Linked DNA regions of Homo sapiens: region 2 is linked to region 1. Evidence: fine-mapped expression QTL. A gene starts in region 1. The other region holds a variant in brackets. All regions are shown on one strand. Distances are from middle to middle.

Evidence for each region. PIP is the estimated chance that this variant, and not a neighbour inherited with it, causes the effect.
Region 2: its variant is fine-mapped to the expression of SMG7 in whole blood (INTERVAL, PIP above 0.99).

What each region holds. Positions count from the first base shown.
Region 1 is chr1:183,467,636-183,479,146 of GRCh38, forward strand. It overlaps SMG7 (SMG7 nonsense mediated mRNA decay factor), which reads left to right and starts at 4,864. Exons shown (of 23, transcript NM_001375584.1): 1 at 4,864-5,014. The coding sequence starts at 4,986. It overlaps SMG7-AS1 (SMG7 antisense RNA 1), which reads right to left and starts at 4,347. Exons shown (of 5, transcript NR_040063.1): 1 at 3,085-4,347; 2 at 2,830-2,905; 3 at 2,039-2,164. RefSeq lists silencers at 2,540-2,729, 4,702-4,851 and an enhancer at 3,915-4,546.
Region 2 is chr1:183,547,720-183,559,230 of GRCh38, forward strand. It overlaps SMG7 (SMG7 nonsense mediated mRNA decay factor), which reads left to right. Exons shown (of 23, transcript NM_001375584.1): 19 at 1,489-1,569; 20 at 2,045-2,204; 21 at 3,032-3,202; 22 at 3,326-3,471; 23 at 4,099-6,472. The coding sequence ends at 4,212. It overlaps NCF2 (neutrophil cytosolic factor 2), which reads right to left. Exons shown (of 15, transcript NM_000433.4): 15 at 7,843-8,511. The coding sequence ends at 8,399. Among named protein-coding and RNA genes, the nearest start is that of NCF2, 37 kb to the right of the region's middle. The variant T/TAAGA (reference allele first, on the strand shown) is at 6,697.

The DNA of each region.
Region 1 (11,511 bases):
GAGAAGTGAAGGGGGAGAGAAAGCTCTGAATATTATTCCCCAACTGTCACCTCAGTGCCTCCCAAATCAGAAGTTTCTTTTCTTCAATCTTGGACTGCAATGATTCCCGACTATTCTTCAGGCTAAAAGACTCCCTCTTTGGAGTGAATGAATAAATATACACTTGGCAAACTGTTTGAAAAAGGCTACTGACCCTTGATCTAAGAAATCTTGAGCAACAGGAGACCTGAATTTAAATGTCAATTTGTATCTGACTCACTATTTGAAGAGAATGAATTACTCATTTGATTGAATCACTTAACTCTATGGTCTGAGGTGTGGTACTGAAGAGGAATGAATGGCTAGCTTCACACATATTGTGTACTGAGTATGCAACTGATAATAAATGTGTTTCTGCTTTGATGAGAATGATTTACCAAGTTCCTAATTGTGCACAGGATTTATAAACATTCAGAATATATAGGATAAATATTAAAATAAATTAGGGCTTGTTACGATGTCATGGCACAGGCTGTCTATTATTATAAAAAGGGAGGAGGCCTGCTATGTATTAATCGTCAGGTTACCAAAGCTCTGGGTAAATTTGGTAAGAATGTTAAGAGTAGCTTCTCAGCAAGTACTGTGTTTGATTGAAAAGAGGCCATTCCATCTACTTGGACAGAAATGTGGTTATATTAGCCTGTTTTATGTGATAAAAGGTTTTTGAAAAGTTTTAAATCTCTAGCATTGGACTCACAATGTCCTAATATTGTGTTCTTTTCTGTAATCAGTCATGAATAAAGAAATCTATCTTCTAGCACTGGATGCCAATAGATTTGAATGTGAGTTCAGACCTATGAGTATTATAGACAAAGACTAGATTGAGAGCTGGGTACAGTGATTCACACCTAAAATCCCAGCTACTTGTGAGGCTGAGGCGGGAGGACTGCTTGTGGCTAGGAGTTAGAGATAGATAGCCTGGGCAATACAGTTAGGCTGCATCTCTATTTAAAAAAAAAAAAGACTAGATAGAGTATTATTTTAAAAAATAATGTTATGCTGTAGTAGTTCTATTTTACTCTTTTTAGCTTGATATAAAAGAGCAAAAGGGACTGGGCAAGGTGGCTCACACCTGTAATCCCAGAACTTTGAGATGCCAAGGCAGGTGGATCACTTGAGGTCAGGAGTTTGAGACCAGCCTGGCCAACATGGTGAACCTTGTCTCTACTGAAAATACAAAAATTAGCTGGGCGTGGTGGCACACACCTGTAGTCCCAGCTACTTGGGAGGCTGAAGCACAAGAATTGCCTGAACCCAGGAGGCAGAGGTTGCAGTGAGCTGAAATTGTGCCACTGCACTCCAGCCTGGGTGACAGAGTAAGTCTCTGTCTCAAAAAAAAAAAAAAAAAAAGCAAAAAGGCAGAAAAAAATTTAATGTTTATCAAGTTCAGTGTTGTATAATGGGCACTCAATCATGTATGTCATCATTAAAGGTCACAGGAAGCCTATAACAGGTAATGCTTCCATTTTGGTCAAGGAGCAAACTGAAGTTCAGACACCAAGATGGCAGAGTTAGAATGCATACTCAGGTCCGTTAGCTTGTGATCTTTCCATGAAATCACTTAGCCAAAAAGACAAACCCAAAAACAAAATCTGGTAGGATTAATGTAAGTAAGGAAGCTTCTCTTTAATTTCTTTTGGTTTAGATGTGATCTTATATCTGTAGGGGGGAAAAGGTGAACAATATCTATTGCAAAAAGAAAGATGTTTGTAATTCTACAAGTTTGTTGACTAGGACAAGTGGAAATAGATGAAAATGGAAAATGTGTATTAAACAGTATATAAATAGAAGGTAATAATTTTTCTGAGTCCTATTGATTTTTGAAGGTAATTTTAATATTAGTATCAAAGTCTTCTAATCTCTAAAATATACTACTATTCTTCTATTTAGCTAGAGATATTGTAAAGCTATTGAAGACTCTTATAAGATTCTTAGGAAAGCTGCTATAAAACACAGACTTTATTATTTCTGACCTCATGTGTTCCTACTTTGTTCTTACCCCAATTACTGCATCCCTCATATTGCATCCTAATCATTACTCTGAGCTCTCTACCAGCAGTTGGGTTTCCTCAAGGCAGGGACCAGGTCTCTTTCACTGTGGTGTCCATCATAACCAGAACAGTGTCTGAAATATAATAAGTACTCAGTAAATGTTTATGGAATAAATCAGCAAACACTAACAAAAGGATTCATCTTTCTGATCCGTTTCTCTATTTCCAAAATGAGAAGATAGTAGTAATATTTTCCTAGATTGCTTATCAGGAATGTATGATAACTGTTCATACACTCTTTATTGGAGATATGTGCCACAGACATAAATGGCTATTACCATGATTAGTAAGGGGGTAATTATTACAATTTTTATTCTGGTTGAAATCTAACCAATTAAAAAATCTAACCAATACACGATCACACTGGTCTTTAAATTAAAAAAAAAAAAGAAAAATATCTAACCAATAAATTTTCGGAAAGAAATGTAGGCTATTTGAGGTAATAGGTAGTAGGAGTGTCTATCCTTGGGCGCTCATGGTAGAAAGAAAAGCAGAACCCCACCGCGGAAATGAGAATAATCCCTCACTAGGTGGCTCTCTTTGCCGTGAGTGGGCGGCGCGTCGGGGCGGGGCGGGTGATTGGGGGCATTGTACTGCCGCAAGCGCTGCGTGTCACGCCGCACCATACCAGGCGCTGGCAGCATGAGGGGCATAGTCCACTTTCTATTTCGTTAATGACAATCTGTCCTTGGAATTTATTTCAAAGCAGGTTGTACTTTCGTTTCCGCTAAACTTATACCTGATGTTTCAACTGAACATTGGTATAGTCTTATTGGTGCAGGTCTCAGAGAAGGATCTTGAAAGTGCCTCTTCACCTGGCGTAGAAAAAGACAGCAGGAATCAGGTAGCCAAACCAGACCAAACCAAATCAAAATAGCCCATTAAAATCCTTATTTTAACTATCCTATGAGGGCTGCATTCTTGGAAGGTTTTATATAGTTACATATCCTAAAGTACTTTGGGATAGCTCCTTAAGTGACTCCACAATACGAACCGAAAATATAACTTGTAAAACGTCAATTTCTTCAAGTCATGGATGATGAATTTTCCAGCTATTTCTCATACACTTCATATTATTATTGACTTCGTTCTTTATTTCAGCTTTTTGGCCCGAAACCTGACACAAAACACACATAATAAATATCCAAAAAGATTTGTTCTAAGAATGAAACTTCTTTTCCTAGACTCCTTTCACCAGACAGATGTATCTAGGGTTCGTTCTTCTTGATCCTCTTTTATCCGATGTTTTCCTCTCTAACTCAACGACACAGAATGACGACTTTTAAAACACTGCAGACCCGTGAGAAGAGAAAGGTTGCAGAGCAGGGAGGAACTTGGAGGTCTGCCTTTAATAATCAAGCAGGATCCCCACTGCGGGGTGCCTATCAGAGTGATGGCGCTAGTCAGCCTTCCGGCTTGTCCCCGGCTTAAATGATAGAAAACCACGTGTTAGCCTTCTAGGATGTGTTCCCACCCTCACCCTGGCCTCCTCGCGGCAGGCTCGCGACAGCTAGGTCAGGAGGGAGTACGCGGGTGGGGTGGATTTGGGGGAGGGGTCGACTCGCCAGAAGTCGGCTATCCCCGTCGGCAGGGAAGGCATCGCGGCTGTCGTGTGCCGCTCTCCTCCCTCAGGGACCCCGTCCAGGCGGGATCCCGCCTCCCAGAGCCCAAGGCAGTTGTGGGGAAACCCCTTGCCCTTCCTCGCCGCTTGGCGCTGTCGCCTCGCCCTCCCGACTCCAGCCCGCCGCCCGCCAGCCTCCAGGCCATGCATCCTCTTCGCAGGCCCAGCCCTCTCCACGCCCGGCTCTGAGAGGAAACTACGGAGGTGGTTCCCGCTCGCAGGCGGGTGGAAAAGCCCATGGTGAATGCCTCGGGGTGTCCCCCCAGTTGCTGTGGGAAGTGGGAAGGGAGGAGGAAGTGGACTTCACCACCGGGGAGAACTATATCGATTCCTAACTTGGGGGAGGCCTTTAGATGGAAGGGAAGCCAACGGGGAACCCTGGGTGGTTTCCTGGGAATCCATTGGCCAAGGGGAGGGTGACCCTGTCCGCACACATCGGTTACTATGACAATATAACCACAGCCTCCAGTTGCCATGGCAGCTGCCTATCCAATCCGATTGTCTTCTCTTCCTCTCCGGGCCCCACCTTATCCCCTCCAAGAGTCTCCCAGCGTGCATGGGGAGGGGCTGCAGCGAAGAGGAGAGGGGGTCCTTCGAGTCACTCTCTACGCGCGAGGGAAGACAGGCGTTGAGGGACTGCTGGGAGGAACTGTAGGAGGAAGGGGCGGCGTTTCCGGTGGGGAAGAGTGGAGGCGTGCAAAAAGGAAGAGGGAAATCGGCAGGAGTGATAAGAAGGGGGAAGACTTTGAGTGTAACTCCCGTTCTTTTGGCCTGGGTGTTCCCGGTGGTGGGATTGGGATTGCCCCCTTGCGCGGGAGGAGAAGGGTGGATTGGCAGGAAGCCGCCAAGCGCCACCAGCCGGTCTCTCAGAAGCCGCACAGGCGCCACACAGCTCGTTGATCCCAAAAGGGAGCGCTACAGAGAGGCGGAAATCACTGAGGGACAGGCGCTGCTGAAATCTCGCGAGAGGGACCCCCTCCCTCGCCCGGTCGCCGACTTCCTCTGCTTCTCCTCTTTCCCCCGCCCCTCCTCCCTCCCCCTCCCCCCCGGGTCGGAGTGTCCCTGCGCCCCACGGGCCAGAGCAGCAGCGAGAGCAGCTTTCCCCACTCCCTCCCCCTCGCCTCATTCACCCCCACCCCCCTGCCGAGCGAGGAGGAGCCGGAGGAGAGGAAGATGGCGGCGGCCGCCAGCACCCGCGGTGCCGCGGGGCCGCTCCGAGGAGCCTGAGAGACCCACGGAGGCTTCGCGGGAAGACGCGGCGGCGGCGGCGGAGGATGAGCCTGCAGAGCGCGCAGTACCTCCGGTGAGTGCCGAGGCCGGGCTGGTACGTAGGGGGAGCGGGCCGCAGGTTGGGGCATGGAGCAACAGACACCGAGGTAAGTCCGGGGTGGCGGGGGAGTTGCTGCGTCCTCTCCTCGCCGGGCAGGTCGGCGGAGACTGCAAGGGGATCTGCGGGAGGGGGCGGAACGGGTATGGGTGCCTAGCCCCTACCGCCCGGGCTGAGCTCTGGCGAAGCCGGCTCGTCCCGGTGCGAGGAGGGAGGTTGGGGAAGCGTGAGAATGTGCGCGCGCGCCCTTGGTCTCGGGTTTGCTAGCGAGGGGTGGAGAGAAACGTCCGGGGAGGCGGCGGCGACCCCGAGTGGAGGTGGGTGTGGAGGAGTCTGATCCCCGTGGCAGGGGACTCGTGGTGTGGCGTGGGATTGGTTGGAGCGATGCATGAGTAGAGGACGGGGAGGAAGTCTGCACACCTGGGGTGTTGGGGCGGGGGAACCGCGGAGGGCAGACAGGGGGAGAGGGAGACCGCAGGAAACTGGAGCTTGTTCTTCATTCTCGGGTTGGGAGTATTGAGGAATAATGTCATCTGTAGTTAGTTGGCGGTGTGGGGAGGCGTGAAGGGGAATAGATGGGGAAGTGAGGAAAGAGGGAGGCACTGTGGACAAGGTTGGGTTTTTCAGAAGAAACTGGGTTAGAATCAGTGTAGTCGGAAGATACCATTCTGAGAGTCGTGTGTATTCATTAAGAGTGGTGTAAGGAACTTGTATGTCAGAGGTAGAGTGACACATGGGAATAGTGTGTGTGTGTGCGAGATGTGTGTCTGGGGTGGGGGGCGCGGCGATTGATGCACATTTCAGGATGAAGATGTAGATAGGTTGAACTTAGTACCTGATGGCGAGAACATATTGAATGGAAGGACACCAGCTTTTGTGTCAGCTGAAAGGTTCCATGGAAGCTGAGTAAGAGCTTGGAGGCAGAGGTAAAGTGGGTCAAAAATCTTGATAGAGAAAAGTAAGGTTGTTAGATCCTGAAATTAACTGGGGAGTGACTACTGCTTAGAAAAGGGGAAGACTTTAAAATTGGTCCTTTTTGTCTTTCAGGAGCAGAACTAAGAAAGGGAGGCCTTATGGAAAGATGTTTTTTAAAAAATTGTTTCATACCTTGCGGAGGAGGGAGTTGGATGAGGTGGAAGTCTGAAATGAGTGGAAAAGTCACTTTAGCTGTTTAGTGACATGAAAGTATTGACGTGTGTGGATCCCTATATGTATATTGCAAGAGGTGTGTAGTTACCTGATACATAGGGTGGCCATTATAATTTTTAAAGTAGTAAAGTTTTATTAAGCATAATAGGGAGAGAAGAGAATGATGAGATATTTGAACAATGCTTGAATGCTTGATTTTAACACAACATATATGCCCAGTGACCACAGGACAGTTGGAATGATGTCTGTAATTTGAGGTCCTTTTTTTCATCTTAGATATCCCTTTGTTGTTTAATATTTCAAATAAATATAGCTATGACAAAGATCTGTTGTAGGTGCTATAGAGAGATGGAAACCATCAGGGTGCTGATTAGTCTTAAGGAATTTGCAGTTGAGTATCTGTTAGGCAAGTAAATTAAACAGCACAGAGTGTAAGTACCATGAAAGATACCAAACGTTGCCGGGCACGGGGGCTCACGCCTGTAATCCCAGCACTTTGGGAGGCCTAGGCGGGAGGATCACCTGAGGTCAGGAGTTCAAGACCAGCCTGGCCAGCATGGTGAAACCACGTCTCTACTAAAAATACAAAAAATTAGCTGGGCATGGTGGTGGGCGCCTGTAATGCCGGCTACTCGGGAGGCTGAGGCAGGAGAATCGCTTGAACCCGGGAGGCAGAGGTTGCAGTGAGCCGAGATGGCGTCATTGCACTCCAGCCTGGGCAACAAGAGTGAAACTTCGTCTCAATAAATAAGTAAATACATAAATAAAAATAAAAGATACGAAGTGTTTTGAGTCCAAAGGCAGGAGATCACCTGAGCAATGGGAGGAAATCAGGAAAGACTTTGTTTATTTGCTCATTCATGTACTCATGATTCATTAGTTGTTTTGTTGATCACCTGTATGGGAGGCATTGTACCAACATCTGAGAATAGAAAAAGAACAACTCCACCCTCCTTTTACAGAGCTTACACTTTGTTAGACTTCAAGAAAATGGCACTTAGGATATTGTTCATCCTTAATGTTCATTTTGACAGATGTGGATTGAGAAGCGGGGAATTCCAAATGGAAGGAAACTGAGCAGAGTTATGTAGGTAGGGAAGCTGGGGGGAAGGGAGGTATTCAGTCCAGTTAGACAACAAGGTAGTGTGATATAGCTGAGAAAACTTAAGAGTTGTAGAGATTATCAAGTTTGACCCTTTCCTTTTACACATGAGGAATGTAAGCCCAAAGAAGGTAAAATTGTTGAGGCTCATATAGCTGGTATGTGGAAACTAACTGAAATGTAGGTCTTCTAACTTCAAGTCAGCTGTAGTACACTGCATGTCAGTATTCATCTGTTCTTTCCACAAATATAAGTTGAGAACATAATATATTCTAGTGTTGAGGGTACACTGGTGAATAAAAGGGTGAACATGGGAGGATATATTATAGTAGAAGGGCACAGTCAGTAAACATAGCAGTTAAATATATATCAGGTGGTCACAAGCACTAGGAAGAGGAATAAAGTAAGACAGGGATGTACTGTTTTATCTGGACAAAGTGGTCGGGGAAATCCTATTTGATAAGGTGACCATATTTAAGAGGATCCTGAATATCATGTTCCATAATTTATAGTTAAAATGGGTAGACAATGGAGAATCTGAGATGATTTGCTAGAATTAATATGTTCACAGCTATGTGTTAGGAAAATGACTCTGTGTAATGTAGTGGTGGATAACAGAGAAAAGTAAGGTTGTTAGAGCCTGACATTAATTGGGGAGTGACTACTGCTTAGAAAAGGGGAAGACTTCAAAATTGGTCCTTTTTGTAAGGTTCTTTTCCTTACAAAAGATTCCCTTTGGGACTTTGGTCCTGAATAAGGTACTGGCAGTGGATCTAGAAAGTTATGAAAAACAAATTGGCAGAGTGGTGGTACTTTTAATGGGGAAGATCAGTGGACTTTGAGAGGCTTCTTGTTAATGTGCCTTATATTTTATAGCTTGACATGGTAGGGAAGACTTCCTTAGATGTGGAATCAATGATAGTTTGAGATGAACTTAGTTCTTTGAAGAAGGGAGAAAAAAAATGAATACAATGATATTTTTCAGCTAAAATTGAGCAGGCAAAATGGGGGAGGCATAGGTCCTGGGGTCCCTTAAAGATTCCTGGAGCCAGTCTTGTCTCAATCTTAGGCATTTGTCCTAAGTAAATTAAAACAAGTGTTAGAAGTCTGAGACCTAGGTGGTGGTTGTGGGAATCATAAAGGCTTGTGCCAGTCTGAATTTCCCTCCTCCTCTTTTAGATAATCATTCCATTTAAAGTCTGCAGTGGGGACACTAGAGAATGTCTTTAGGGAAGCATTATGTTCACGTTCTTTGAAAATAGAACTGTTGGTTTTTATAGACACTTCAGGGAGGATGCCGAGTATTGCTGAATGGATGTGGTTGGGGGGTGTAGCAATTGTTTTCGTGACCTTGACTTGAAGAATTTTCTTGCCTACCTTTGTCAGTGGTGGAAGATCATGACTGGGCAATTTTTAATCTCTATAGCTACAGATCCTGCCTCATGTAGATGAAAATTAGTTTTGTCTTGGCTGAATTTTAATTTGTTAGAGTAAATGAGCTGGGATGTCTGGCATTGAAATGGTGGGGTGGTGGGAAACCAAGGAGCAAGATGGCTGTTTCAGAAGGGTCAGAAATGAAGATAGGAGGCAAGAAGTCCCAGTAAGACCAATAAAGAGAGAATTCAACATCAAGGGAACTGAATTAGTCTCAAGTTATAAAAATAGAGCAGAGATGAAAGGAAGAAAACCTATCTTCTATGTGGGAAAGATGATGATATTCTGGGCAGGAAAGGATAATGAAATTTTTTGTTTGTTGAAAGGTAAGTATCTTTTTAATACACTGACAAGACTTCTAAGAGAATCAGTTAAGTTGAAAATACTTTGTTATGTTTTATAAAAATAAAAATATGATCTTAAATATGAGGGTTCTAGGCCGAATAACATTGGGAATTTATTACTCAAATTGAAGGAGAATTCAGAGTATTTTCTCTTTTGATTTATGACAGAATGAAAGATTTTAAAAGACTTTGACACCTCTGTTGAGTAAAAGAAAGGGTGTATTGAATACAATTCATTTGATGGGGGTAGGAGAAGGTTAGGATAGGCCGCAGGTGAGGTATAATATTATGCTTTAAAATAATGGCATTTTGAAAAAAAGAAAAGTGGAAATTAACATATCAAAGTTGGAAAAGCAGGAGTGGGGGAAGTATTAAAGTACCAGACAGAGAAGACATCAAAGTTGTTTTGGAAGATGAGAAAGTAGAATAATCATAGCTATAGGGAATACCAGTCAAACAGGTCAAATCCTGTTATAAAAGGTGGCACAGGTGCCACCGAATGACTTCTGCTGCCATTGTGGGAGCCACTGTTCATACTCTATGCTCCCTTCAACTTTCCTCCTTTTCTTCCTTCACTATTCTCTTTTGTCTCTAATTTCTTCCTATGCTGTGAGTGTTTCAGTGAGATCCACTTGAAGTGGATTCCTACTGTTAGACTCCTTTACAGGAAAGGTCCAGAAAGTATCTGTTTTGTTTTGTGTGTGTGTGTGTGTGTGTATGTGTGCATATGTGTATATATACATATATACATGTGTGCATATGTGTATATATGCATATATACACGTGTGTGCATATGTGTATATATGCATATATACATGTGTGTGCATATGTGTATATATGCATATATACGTGTGTGCATATGTGTATATATGCATATATACGTGTGTGCATATGTGTATATATGCATATATACGTGTGTGCATATGTGTATATATGCATATATACGTGTGTGCATATGTGTATATATGCATATATACGTGTGTGCATATGTGTATATATGCATATATACGTGTGTGCATGTGTATATATGCATATATACATGTGTGTGCATATGTGTGCATATATACATGTGTGTATGTGTGTATGTATACATATATGTATATGTGTCTATGCACATATGTGTGTATATATACATATATTTTTTGTATGATACATGTATAGTGAAGACGCTGCATCTCAGTGGCTCACTTGTCAGAAGTTTTGTTACTAATATAACAGCCACAGGGTTGTTTTCTAAGCCAGCAGAAAAATGGTTGTCATTTAAATAGGAAGTAAAATATCCAATATGGTATAAAATAAAAATGTATCACTATAAATCTTGAAACAGAGAGATAGTGGAGATAAGGCTGGATAAAGTAGCAAGCTAAGCCTTATCCTAGCCTGGGGAGAGGAACAGAGAAGATAGTGGGAGCATTGGGAGGAATATATAAATAGGATGGTCTCCAGGTTCTAGAAGAGTCTAGTAATGCTAGATCAGATAGTCACTGTATCCTGAAGCTTCTAGAAGTCTTAGAGCACATGCTGATTTTAGTCCATGTGGTCCACGAAGTCTTCTTCACCTGCCCCATCCCCTTCCTTTCCACCAGGTACATGCTTTACAGAATGTAAAGTAGCTTTTGTCCCGGAATATCAGCCAAAGGTGGTGACATTTTTTGAATGAATGACTGTCTCTTTAGGCTTATAAGTCTTTGTTATAACAGTGTTAATAGCTTATTACCTGCTTGGATATTGTCTGACTAAATTATTTTGGCAGTTAATTTCTGCTTCCCTTGTGGTTTCATTTGGATTCAAAATGTATACTTCCTGTCCTATCTTAGGTTTCATTTCTTTGCTTTCTAACAGCTGTGGTCTTCTGCCTTCATGGTAGAAGAAGCAATTGCTGAGTTTTATGTTGTTGTTTTTAATGGATGTGTTACAGTAAGATCTGGACCCACTAGTATTGCAAGTTTCATGAGGCAGTTTTGAGGTGGAGAGTGGTTCACACTTTAAAAGGGCTGGTGTGTTTTATACTTGAGAAAAATTGTTTCCTGCCTCCGGCTAGCCTTTCAAATTTTTGTATTAGTGTCATGAATGAGTGCCTGAAAGTTTAGATGGGTTAGTTTAATTGATCTTGTGTAGAGAATAAATTATAAAGCATACGTCTTGTAGATAGTGGATTATTCATCTGTTTGTAGGTATATTGGCAGATGGCCATTATATATTGCCATTAAAGTTTTGCAGTCAAGCCATATTTTAGTTTAGTTGCTGTATTGTTATGAATAGACTTATCAGCTGTCTGGGAAATTGTAACTAAGCATTTACAAGGAAATATAAGAGTGGAATTTTGGCAGGTATGTCACATGGTAAGTGACAGCTTGTAACCAGCTCTTTTTTTGTTAGTGTGTAAATGGAGCTGCTTAGGAACATTGTTTTTACTCTCCCTTAGACCCAGTTTTTAGTCAGTG
Region 2 (11,511 bases), 80 kb after region 1:
CTAAATGCAGAAAGAGCCCTGATCTAAATTCAAAGTTGGATTCATAAACAGAATGAGTAAAAATGAAGAGGATTCTATTTATAAACATTGTCAGAGTGTCATAAATGAGTAAATATGAAAATAACTAGAATCACATAAAATAAAATCTGAGAACTCAGCCTGCATTTCAAAGAACATCATTCTATATGCTTGTCAGTGTTCATATTATATTTTACTGTGGGTGGGGAGTATAAAAGATGGAAAGAAAGATGTATGCTATGAGGCTTTTTCCCCTCTCTTTATTACACCTTAATAAAACATAAAAAGATAGTAAATTTTACTTTCTTGCTGTTTCTTTCTCATAAACACAGGGCAAGAACACATTCGTAAAATTAAAGTACATTAATTTTAGTGTCAAGAGAAATAAAACCTTAACAGCTTTCATGACATTGCTGCCATCCCTGGCACTTGAAGTTCCCTTAAGAATTTGCCTGGGTAGTAGCAGTAGGGGCCCCATACCAAGTTATTAAATAATAGCAATAAAAGATCCCCCTGGAGACTTAAATGGTAGCAGTGCCATGGCTGAGCGCACAGGGATTGTGGAAGCTCAGCTGCTATACTGTTGCCTCTCTATGTTTGCCTTTCTTGTGGCTTTTATGCTAGAGTGGCTTTAAGGACTGAGGGTAGTGCTTCTCTGTCCACTTGTTTCCTAATCCCTTAGTTCCTGTTCCTGTTCCCTTAGTGTCCCTTTCATTGGAAATGGAGCTGATGGTAGAACAAGTGGGAGTATTTTCAGGGTTTTTTTTTCATGTTTAAAAGACAACAATGAATAAAAAAAACTTCGACTATAACCCTTCCAATATTTAACATTAATGATACAACGTATGTCAAAGTGCTTCTCTTGTCGTAGGTATTTAGTAATGTTTTATTAGCCAGCTATTCAGTGACAGCATTAGAGATTCAGCTTTGTTTCTCCTAATAACTTTGCTAGGGCCAATAAATGTAAGCTTGACTTTTAGCAACTGTTTTACTATATACTGCAAATAGAGCTGCTTAAAAAGCATATTAACAAAGCCATTTGTCAAATGGATTTGAAAGGCTTTTTAAAAGTCACCAATGTTAATGTTTTAAAAATTGTGGGGTGGAGAGAAACAGTGTTGGAACAGTTCAGCATTTTGTTTTGAGATTAAGTGCAACTATTGACAAGGGGATTCCTGAGGTCCATGCCTCATAAACACTCAGAGTGCTGTTTACCAGGGTCTCTGGTCCCTGCCAGAATATAATCTCTGACTAGGTTTGATCTAAAAGGAGGATTCTATGCACCTGTGGCAACTGGCACTTAGGCGGTGTCTTGGTGTTAACAGATTTGAATTCACATCTTCTGAGCCTCAAATTGTACTCAGTGGGCGAATACAGGCATGCTTTTGCTTTGGTTCCATAGTATGGTAAGATTAATATTAAGAAAATAGAAGGTATAACTTAATTACCTTTTTTTCTGGGACTGTGAAGAAATCCTTATTGGAGAAGCCCTCAGAGCTCATGTCACATTCATCCTCTTTCCTGTCCCTCACCGGATTCTCTCTCAATCAGGTAGGTGAACAATGAAGAATCCTGCTGTGTGCTTTTAGTGTAGACTGATCATTGTCTTTCTCATACTGTTTCAGTATGTCTGTTTTTTCTTTATTTTCCATGTATTAGTGTATTCCAGATATTTGATTTTATCCCCCTTGTCTCTGATTGGGGCATACTAGTGACTTGTACATCATGAATTAAAACCCTTTAACTTCTCATTAATATTGAAACCCTTAGGGCTCTCTTTTTGAGCCAAATAAATTATTCACATTTTCAACCTGGATAGTTTACACAGAGCAAATTTAAGGGTGAGAGAAAGCAAAGAGGAAAATTAATTTGACTGGAAAATTGAAACAAAAAGAAATAAAAGCCTTCAAAATTTCTCTTCCTAAGAAAAGCTTAAGGTGTACCAAGCATCCATGAACAAGACATTGGATTTTCTCAAATCTCTTTCCTTGGGGTGAGTTTATAACTTCACTGTCATGTCTTTCAGGAAAGATACCCAAATAATAGTATGTTCAATGAGGTATATGGGAAAAACCTGACATCCAGCTCCAAAGCAGAACTCAGTCCCTCAATGGCCCCCCAGGAAACATCTCTGTATTCCCTTTTTGAAGGGACTCCGTGGTCTCCATCACTTCCTGCCAGTTCAGGTATTAACTACTCTTTAAATTATAGACCTTACATTTCCTGTACACTCAGATTGATTAAGGGATAGTGAGATTCTGTAATTACAAATATATCATTTGTTGGGTTATTTTTATTTTTTGTTTGTTTGTTTTTGTAACTTCTGAAAGGAAATAGAAAAAAAAAAAGAAGAAGCCGGTTTATGTAATAAATGCTACTGACAAAACTTTTTACATCCTCAGTAGCCAGCAGAGATGTAAGGGAGAAAATAGAGGTTCTATCTTATGGTTCTCAGCTGCTTTTTAGTTTTATTTGTAGGTGTTCATTCTTTGCAGAAAAATTGCACTTTTTTTTTTGAGACAGTGTCTTGTGGTGTTGCCCACTCTAGACTCAAACTCCTGGGCTCAAGCAGTCCTTCCATCTCAGCCTCCCAAGTAGCTGGGACTACAGGTGCACACCACTGTGCCCAGCTCTGCACTTTTTAAAATTGAGATTTTTAACTTAGAGTCTGACTTAATAGTAATTCTTAAGGTTAGCAAATTCTTTCTGATACATAAGACCAATAAACATGTATCTGAAATAGCCGTGTGAGAATAGGGCATTCATTCAGTTGACAAAAATTGCCTACTATTTTATTTTGCTTTTTTAAGGCGAAGAATATGCCTTAGATATGTGTGGCAGGGCAAATTAGTGCATCTAGCAGATCTCTTTGGAGCCTTTAGTTTCCCTTTCCTTCAAAGCCCTGTGGTTATTGTTAGTAGAATTTTAGTGATCAGATCTACAGGAACCTGTAGTTCTTTGTATGTTTGTGAAACAATGATTTACTATATCCTGTGTTGCTATTATTTAATAGATCATTCAACACCAGCCAGCCAGTCTCCTCATTCCTCTAACCCAAGCAGCCTACCCAGCTCTCCTCCAACACACAACCATAATTCTGTTCCATTCTCCAATTTTGGACCCATTGGGACTCCAGATAACAGGGATAGAAGGACTGCAGATCGGTGGAAAACTGATAAGCCAGGTGAGATCTACATTTCATTGCCAGGCAAAATTGAAAGAATTTACTCTATCCTTCCCTGGGGTCTGGCAATTGGCAGTGATAGAACATCTTCTTGAATTTTTCTTATCTCTTTTCATCCCTTAGCCATGGGTGGGTTTGGCATTGATTATCTCTCAGCAACGTCATCCTCTGAGAGCAGTTGGCATCAGGCCAGCACTCCGAGTGGCACCTGGACAGGCCATGGCCCTTCCATGGAGGATTCCTCTGCTGTCCTCATGGAAAGCCTAAAGGTGAGTAGATTTCAGGAACAAGAACCACAAGATTATTACAGCAAAGGTGTCTCTGCTTTCATTCACATAAATAGCTAGACTTCTCAGGCCCTCGGAGTTGACTGATACATAGCACATATATAACAAAGTCCTAGAAACATGGTCTGCCTTACAAGATTCTTGAGTGATAATTTTTAATTTCTGAATTCACTAGTGGTAAAGCAGTATCTTCAGGAGGACAAAAACAAAGGTTTTAGTTTCATTCTAAGGTTAAGAAAATTCTGATTCATTTTGGAATGTTTGATTTAAGCCTTTTCTGACAAAATAAGAGTATCTAATTTTAGAAATGTTTTATTTGCCTGAAAACTTTATAGTAAATGCCCTGTGTGGTACCACATACAGCTGAGTTTCAGTAAAAAGACTTGACATAAAATGTGATTTCACTTCTTCTGGTTTAAAATAGTCTTAATGGAAACTAACTAGCTTTAAGAGTCTTATAATGACTTTTTCTAATAGCTGGATTTTTATGGGGAGTGGGGTTGGGTTTTGGGGCCATATATATGCCTTTATATTTGGCTGGGATTGAAAAATCCCTTTCAGACAACTTGGCATTTGACCTCTGCTGACAAGATCTGGACTGTTTTTCAGTCTATCTGGTCCAGTTCCATGATGCATCCTGGACCTTCTGCTCTGGAGCAGCTGTTAATGCAGCAGAAGCAGAAACAGCAACGGGGACAAGGCACCATGAACCCTCCACACTGAGGCCAAAGTGGCAACCTGGGAATGAAGGCTCCATAAACCATGGCATGTTGGGTTTGCAGGACTGGCCCACACAGTCCCCTGCAGGTGGCAGCCCTCTTTTCTGTTTCTCGCTGTCAAGAGGGTGTAAGTATTCCACCAGCCCGCTGAGTGTGCACGAAATGTTCGCAGTGCAACAAAAAGAAAAATCCATCAGGAACTCTCCGTCCCCCCGGGGCCCTCCGGAGGGAGAGAGAGAGGAACTGCTGTTTATCTCACTCAGTTACTTGGTATCACCGCCTCTCACCTTCTCCATCGTGCATGTCCCCAGCCACATGGGAAGTGAAAGCTGAGAAGGGAAGGCAGATGGGAGAAGCCAATGGGAACTTCTCAGTCCTTTTTTCCTCTTTGGGGAATAAAATAGGAATCCATTAATGATTGCTTTGCTGACTGAGAATGTAGTTGAAATTATTCTTAAACATCTTTTATTATTATTACTCTCAGTAGTAAAATATCACACTGAATTCTTCCATACACAGGTGTGCTTCTAGTCAGTGTGTAGCAAGGAAAGCCCCGTTCACTGCTCCTGTGAGAGGTTGGTGGTGACAGGATGGGGAACCGACCTCTTCAGCCAGTGGAAATGTTCCATAAGGGAGAGTTCAAGGCCTGTCAGAAGGCTCTGGTAGGCCTTCCTCTGGCCAGGAGACTCCAGCAGGGAATGCCCTTCACTCTGTAGGTGCTCGAGCCCCAATCGAGGATACAGTGTGGGTGGTGGTGCTGGGCTGGACTAGCAGGTAGACTGCTGTAGGATTTCAAATTACGTTTTTGATTCCTGTACATTTTACAGTCGCACAGCAAGCAGTCTCACAGAAGGCAGGCTAGTCCATTCACAGCCTGACACGTTCTAATAGGTAGAAGCTTTCAGTGTGGTTATTTTTTCTTTGGTTGGTTTTTGTGCCCCCATTCTACTTCCCACCCTCCTGCCCCATCTCCATCCCTTCTTTTACCCAATGCTGTATGCTAGTAATTGTTTTTATTCCTAATGTGTGCAACATCACATCTCCCCAAGAAGCAACAGCATGGGGTCCAGCAGTTGGGGCCCAAAAGACAGTCTGAAGAGGAAGGAAGCAGCAGTATCTGCGTAGCCCACAGAGGGCCCAGGCCCCTGCCCAGCTGCAGTCTCCCAGCCTCCACTTTCAGAGTGAAATTCAAGGCAGCACGGACATGTGCCCATCAGGCACAGAAGAAAACACGACGTCGTCCATTTTGGAAGAGACGAAAGAAAGGAAAATAAACTCTTTGTATGATATTTATTAGGAGGAAAGAGGACTGAAAATGTTCTTGTGTAGAAACAGAAGGACAGCATTTCTGTTAGTCATTTCCTGGAAAAGTAATATTTTAAGGGGAAATTATGGAAACAATCTAATTGTTCAATTGCTGTGCTAGTGGTAGGGTTTATTTTCTGGGAGGTCTCTCCTTTGTGTGTCTGTATGTTTGTGTACACACACGTGCCCATCTGCTGTCCCAGAGGGGAGGGGTTGTGTGTGCGAGTGTATGGAGTTAGTGTGGAACTTAAGAGCTGGAAGACAGCTGTAGAGCAAAGCACATCCAGGAGCCCCAGTTGTCACTGCAGTCTGGGCAACCCCAGCAATGAAAAGGGGTGAGATAACGCTCATTGCTCTTCAGAGAGAGTGGTTGGAGCCCCCCCCGCCCCGTATGCTTACATTATTGCTCTTTTAGTTTGACATGGTGTTTGGGTTTTGTTTTTTTGAAAGGTCTGAAAAGGTGAAGCCCCCTACCCAATGGCAATATGAAACCTTTTGTGCTTCTCTTCAGCCCCTTCCCTGTGTCCACCTTTCTCTCCTCTTCCCAAGCCTTTTTCCTACTACCTTTACCCAGTTTGTGTGTTTGAGCTCTGCATTCAGGCAGCTGCAACATTCCAGTGTTTGAACTGTCACTGATTCTTGCGCCCTAGACAAGCTAACCAGGTTTACCATCTCACTCCCAGTAATACCCAGCTCCTATCTAAAGCCCCATTCTGCATGAGAATTTGGTGTTTGGAATGTTTTCTGACTCTTGGGGCGGGATTCCTCGCCTTATCATCCTCACTGTGGAGTAATGAGGGGGAGGAGAATCTTTATCAGAAACTGGTTTTGTGTAGTAAACTTTCTTTTGTGGTTTTTTGTTTTGTTTTCTGGGTTTTGTTTTTTGTTTTTGTCTGTGCAAGACCTGCAGCTGCTGAAAATCAGCTTTGCCTTTAATTAAACCATGTTCTCTCCAACCAGATCTGTGTATCGATTCTTTCTTTTCTATCCTAAAAGATATAAAAGAAGTATTGAAGAAAATCCAACTTAAAAGGCAAGAATTTCAACTACTCACAGGTCATCCAGGGAAAGGCATAAATGGTCAGAACTTGAATATTTTTCAGGGTTAATTTTGCTTTTAGTAGCATTCCAAACCAATGAATTACGGAAATTATAATTAATTGTAATGGAAAGGCATGAGTAG[T/TAAGA]AAGAAATCGATTATCAAAATTCTTTTATTTAATAAAAGAATGCCTTATGTTAAGGAATTAAGAGCCCATCATTTTTATTTTTATTCCTATTGTAGCTGTTACTGAGGCAGTTCAGAGAGTTTATCCTTTTGGCCTGTAAAAATTCACTGAATCTGATTAGCAGCAACATTAATTAATTCTTCTTCTTAGCTTTGGGGTTTCTTTTCTTTGAGTTGTGTCCAAAGTTTCCAGTGATTGGTAGCTTGCTGGGTCTTCCAACTGTGTGCTGGAAGCCAGTGGTATAGCTAACCTTAATGCCTGTGTGCTCACCCTGACCGGCTATCCTTTCACCTGCATGTTGATTCAGTCTGCAGTTCACTTCCTTATTCTGCTTTTCACAGGCGCCTGCACACTTGAAAAATTGTTAGCAAAGCTCCACATACGCTACAACAAGAAGTGGGTAGGGAGAGGAACTAAGGCCAGGCCTTAAGGTCTAATAGTTTAGTTAGTTACAGAATCCTTCACCCAAGTTAATCCTGAAAAATTGGACAATTGGGTTAGCCAAATCCATAGCATTCTGTTATGTATATTAGTATAGCATAGTATATGCAGTCATTTACCATATAACAATGTTTTGGTCAACAATGGACTGCATATACAATGATGCTCCCATAAGATTATAATACATTTTTGCTGACCTTCTCTATGTTTGTTTACACTGATGATACTTACTTACCATTGTGGTATAGTTGCCTGCAGAATTCAACATAGTAACATGCTGTACAGGTTTGTAGCCTAGGAGTAGTAGGCTATACCTGGTAACCTAGCTGTGTAGTAGGCTATACCATCTAGTCTTGTGTAAGTGCACTCTAGATGAGTTTGCACAACACGTTTCTCAGATCATGTCTCCATTGTGAAGCAGTGCATAACTGTATTACGAAGTGTCAGCTAACAAGATACTACTTACGAACTAGCTTCATGAACACCGCTGCTTTTCATCACTTAAATGTTGGCGATTGATATATATTCAGTATTGAGTTCTTAACACATGTTCCTCTCTGAGAATGTACAAAGGTATGTAATTCTATTAATTCTCTGTGGAATTGAGTGTTGTAGTCCATGAGAACCTAACTCAGTCTAGGTTCTGTTTAAGCAACAAGACATAATGAAAAAAGAAAACAAACAAGTTTATTTGTATATGCCTTATGAGTAACCTATAAGGTTACTTCAAGCCTTAAGAGCCAATTACAGTAATGGTTCAGAAACAGGAATATTTGTACTTACTCCTTGGGCCTGGACTTGGGTGTCTTGTTTTTGTAAGATGCTAGGTTTTTTTTTATTGTGGTATGACACAGAAAAGTGCACCAAATGTACAGCTTGATGAATGTTTACAGTGTGAACACAGCTGGCTAGCTAGCACTCAGAGCAAGAAACAGGATCAGTACCTGGAAGACTCTCTCGTGCCCTTTCCAGACACTTCCATCCACTTTTCCTCTCCCCTAACTCCTCCATTCACCTGTCCCCATCTCCTCACCCACTGTGCCCCAGGAAATCATCCTGGGTACTCACATCATTGTCTAGTAGGTTAAATTTTAACAGGGAATAAATAGTTAACACTTCCAAACTGTAATGTCTCAGTACAGTATACAGCAGAAGGGTGCTAAATCTTACAAACAAGTAATAGGGCTTCATTTTCTTCAGCTTTGTAGTTTGTGAAACATCCTAGACTTCTCTCCGAGTGCTTTCCAAATCTGTAGTTGCGCAGTCTTCAACAAAAACTTTGGGGAAAATGCCCACCTTCCCTTTGCACTCCCCTTCCAGCCATTCTTCATTCACTGATAAAAGGAAAAGTACACATGGATTTCTAAAACCACTGTAGGAAGATTACCCTGTCTGGCTATTCCACACAGAATTTGTTATCTGTCACCCTTCCCCACCCCTAATTGTGATCAACAGGGAAAAGACAGTATTGCAAAGTGGTTTGAGAGTGAACACAGGGTTTAACCATCTTATTGATCTGTCTTAAACATGATAATGAGCAAAATGAAGAAGGATAAATTATGTTTTTCAAAAAGTTACCAGATAGAGAAGAAGGGTCAAAGAAATTGAACAACGAATCCTTAAATAGAATTTCTGTCCTTTCCCCACCCCCAACCTTGACAGGGTCTCACTGTCACCCAGGCTGGAGTGCAGTGGCACAATCTGGGCTTACTGCAACCTCTGCCTCCTGGGCTCAAGTAATCCTCCCACCTCAGACTCCCAAGTAACTGCAACTACAGGCTGTGCCACCACGCTTGGTTAATTTTTGTATTTATTAGAGACAGGATCTCGCCATGTTGCTCAGGCTGGTCTCAAACTCCTGGGCTCAAGTGATCCACCCAACTCAGCCTCCCAAAGTGCTGTGGTGATAGGGGTGAGCCACCGTGCCTGGCCCAATTTTTTAAGAGAGGAGAGAATTTTACCTGCGCTTTGTTGGGAATCTTTGTTTTGACTACAGAAAAGGGACATGCCATTGGTTAAATATATTAAAAATGAAAGTTCTTTAGTAAACTTTCTTCTTTTCACTGAACTCCATTAAACAGGTGAGCTGGAGCTAGTGATGGGTTAGTACATGTTTGTTAAATATAAATATTTTAATAGCTCCTACTCAGAGCCTTTAATAGAGTGCAGGCATTGTACTTAAAAAATATATTCAGACTTCATAATAACTTGTAGGTATCCATATTTTACTAAGGAAAAGGAGACCCAGAGAGATGAATAGTTTGTTCAGAGCCATTCTGCCAGTAAAAATCAGACAACTTAGGTATGATCTCCAAAGCCCACCTACCTGACCACACAGCCAGTTCAGAAGTTTGTCTTTGTACATCTAGATCAGACATTAAGGCACTGGTGCCTGGATCCTGCCCCCAGAAATTTTGCTTTAATGTGTGGTGTGACTGGGCAGCAGTTTTTTCAAAAGTTCCCTTAGGTAATTCTAACTGCAAATCACTGTCTTGATTCTTCTTACAGGGTAGGTCGTGGACTGGAAGCATATTAGAAATGAAAAATCCCAGATCCAAACCAGAGTCAGAATCCATTTAGGAAGATTCGCAGGTGATTCACATGCACATTAAAGTTTGAGAAACACTTTGTAGATGAGACCATCTCATAACTTGAATGCAATTGAACTCCCCTCTGTCCTACCCTGACCGCTAAATTCTGTTTTCTGTTGAAGTGCTACAATATGGGTATTTCCTCAACTTAGACTTGTACAGATAGGTCATAGTAAGACGCATACTGGCTTCTCTCCATATCTACCCAAAAGGTTGTTTTAGTGTGTTCTTTCATTGTATTCCTGCTCCCTCTCCCAAACTCCAGACAATTGAGCTGGTTGGTTGATTTAGGCACCTTTAAAGTGGCACTTGGAGGTGTTCAACCCAGTTCTTCCCACTGAGTTACCATTCTCTCTTGTTGGAACACTCTGCTTCTATATTACTACTACTCATATTTTTTTTTTTGAGACAGAATCTCACTCTGTTGCCCAGACTGGGGTGCAAAGGTGCAATCTTGACTCACTGCAAGCTCCATGTCCCTAGTTCAAGTGATTCTCCTGCCTCAGCCTCCCAAGGAGCTGGAACTACAAGTGCACGCCACCACGCCTGGCTAATTTTTTTATTTTTAGTAGAGATGGGGTTTCACCATGTTGGCCAGGCTGGTCTCAAATCCTGACCCCAAGTGATCCACTCACCTTGGCCTCCCAAAGTGCTGGGGTTACCAGCATGAGCCACCACGCCCAGCCTATACTACTCATATTTTTAATTAATTGCTACACACTTGTTGTATACTCTCTCTACCCCCATTAACTTTTTTTTTAATTTTAATTTTTTTGTTTTTGTTTTTGTTTTTTTTTTGAGACTGAGTCTCACTCTGTAACCCAGGCTGGAGTGCAGTGGCACAATCTCAGCTCACTGCAACCTCCTCCTCCTGGGTTCAAGAGATTGTCCTGCCTCAGCCTCCTGAATAGCTGGGATTACAAGCACCTACCACTATACCCGGCTAATTTTTGTATTTGTAGCAGAGACAGAGTTTCACCATGTTGGCCAGGCTGGTCTTGAACTCCTGACCTCAAGCAGTCAGCCCACATTGACCTCCCAAGGTGCTGGGATTACAGGCATAATCCACTGCACCCGGCCTATTTTTATTTTTTTTAAGACAGAGTCTCGCTCTGTCACCCAGGCTGGAGGGCAGTGGTGCAATCTCGGCTCACTGCAACCTCCACTCCCGGGTTCAAGCGATTCTCTTGCCTCAGCCTCCCTAGCAGCTGGGACTACAGATGTGCATCACCACGCCCAGCTAATTTTTACATTTTTAGTAGAGATGGGGTTTCACCATGTTGGCCAGGTTGGTCTTCAACTCCTGGCCTCAAGTGATCCACCACCTCAGCCTCCCAAAGTGCTGGGATTACAGGTGTGAGCCACCAGGCCCAGCCTACCCTCATTAACTTTAAAATTTCCCCCTCTCTTTGTCTGTTGGATTTTCTGTTATAATTGATGGTAGTTTTTCACTGCTTTGCATTGGTAGTGCACAGACTCAGCGTATGAGCAGGGCTTTTATGATGGGACTTTTTTGTGTCGAGGTAGAGAATTAGGCTGGCAAACCACGAGTTGGAATGGTGCTTCTTAAGAGTGTAGGCAGTAGACCAGCATCACCTGGAAACTTGGTAGAAATGCAAGTTGGTGGGCCCCACCCCAGACCTGAATCAGAATCTCTGGAGGGTGGGCCCAGGAATTGATTTAACAAACTCTTCCAGGGATTCTTAGAACTCTCCACTTTTAAGAGGTGGGTCTTGCTGTGTT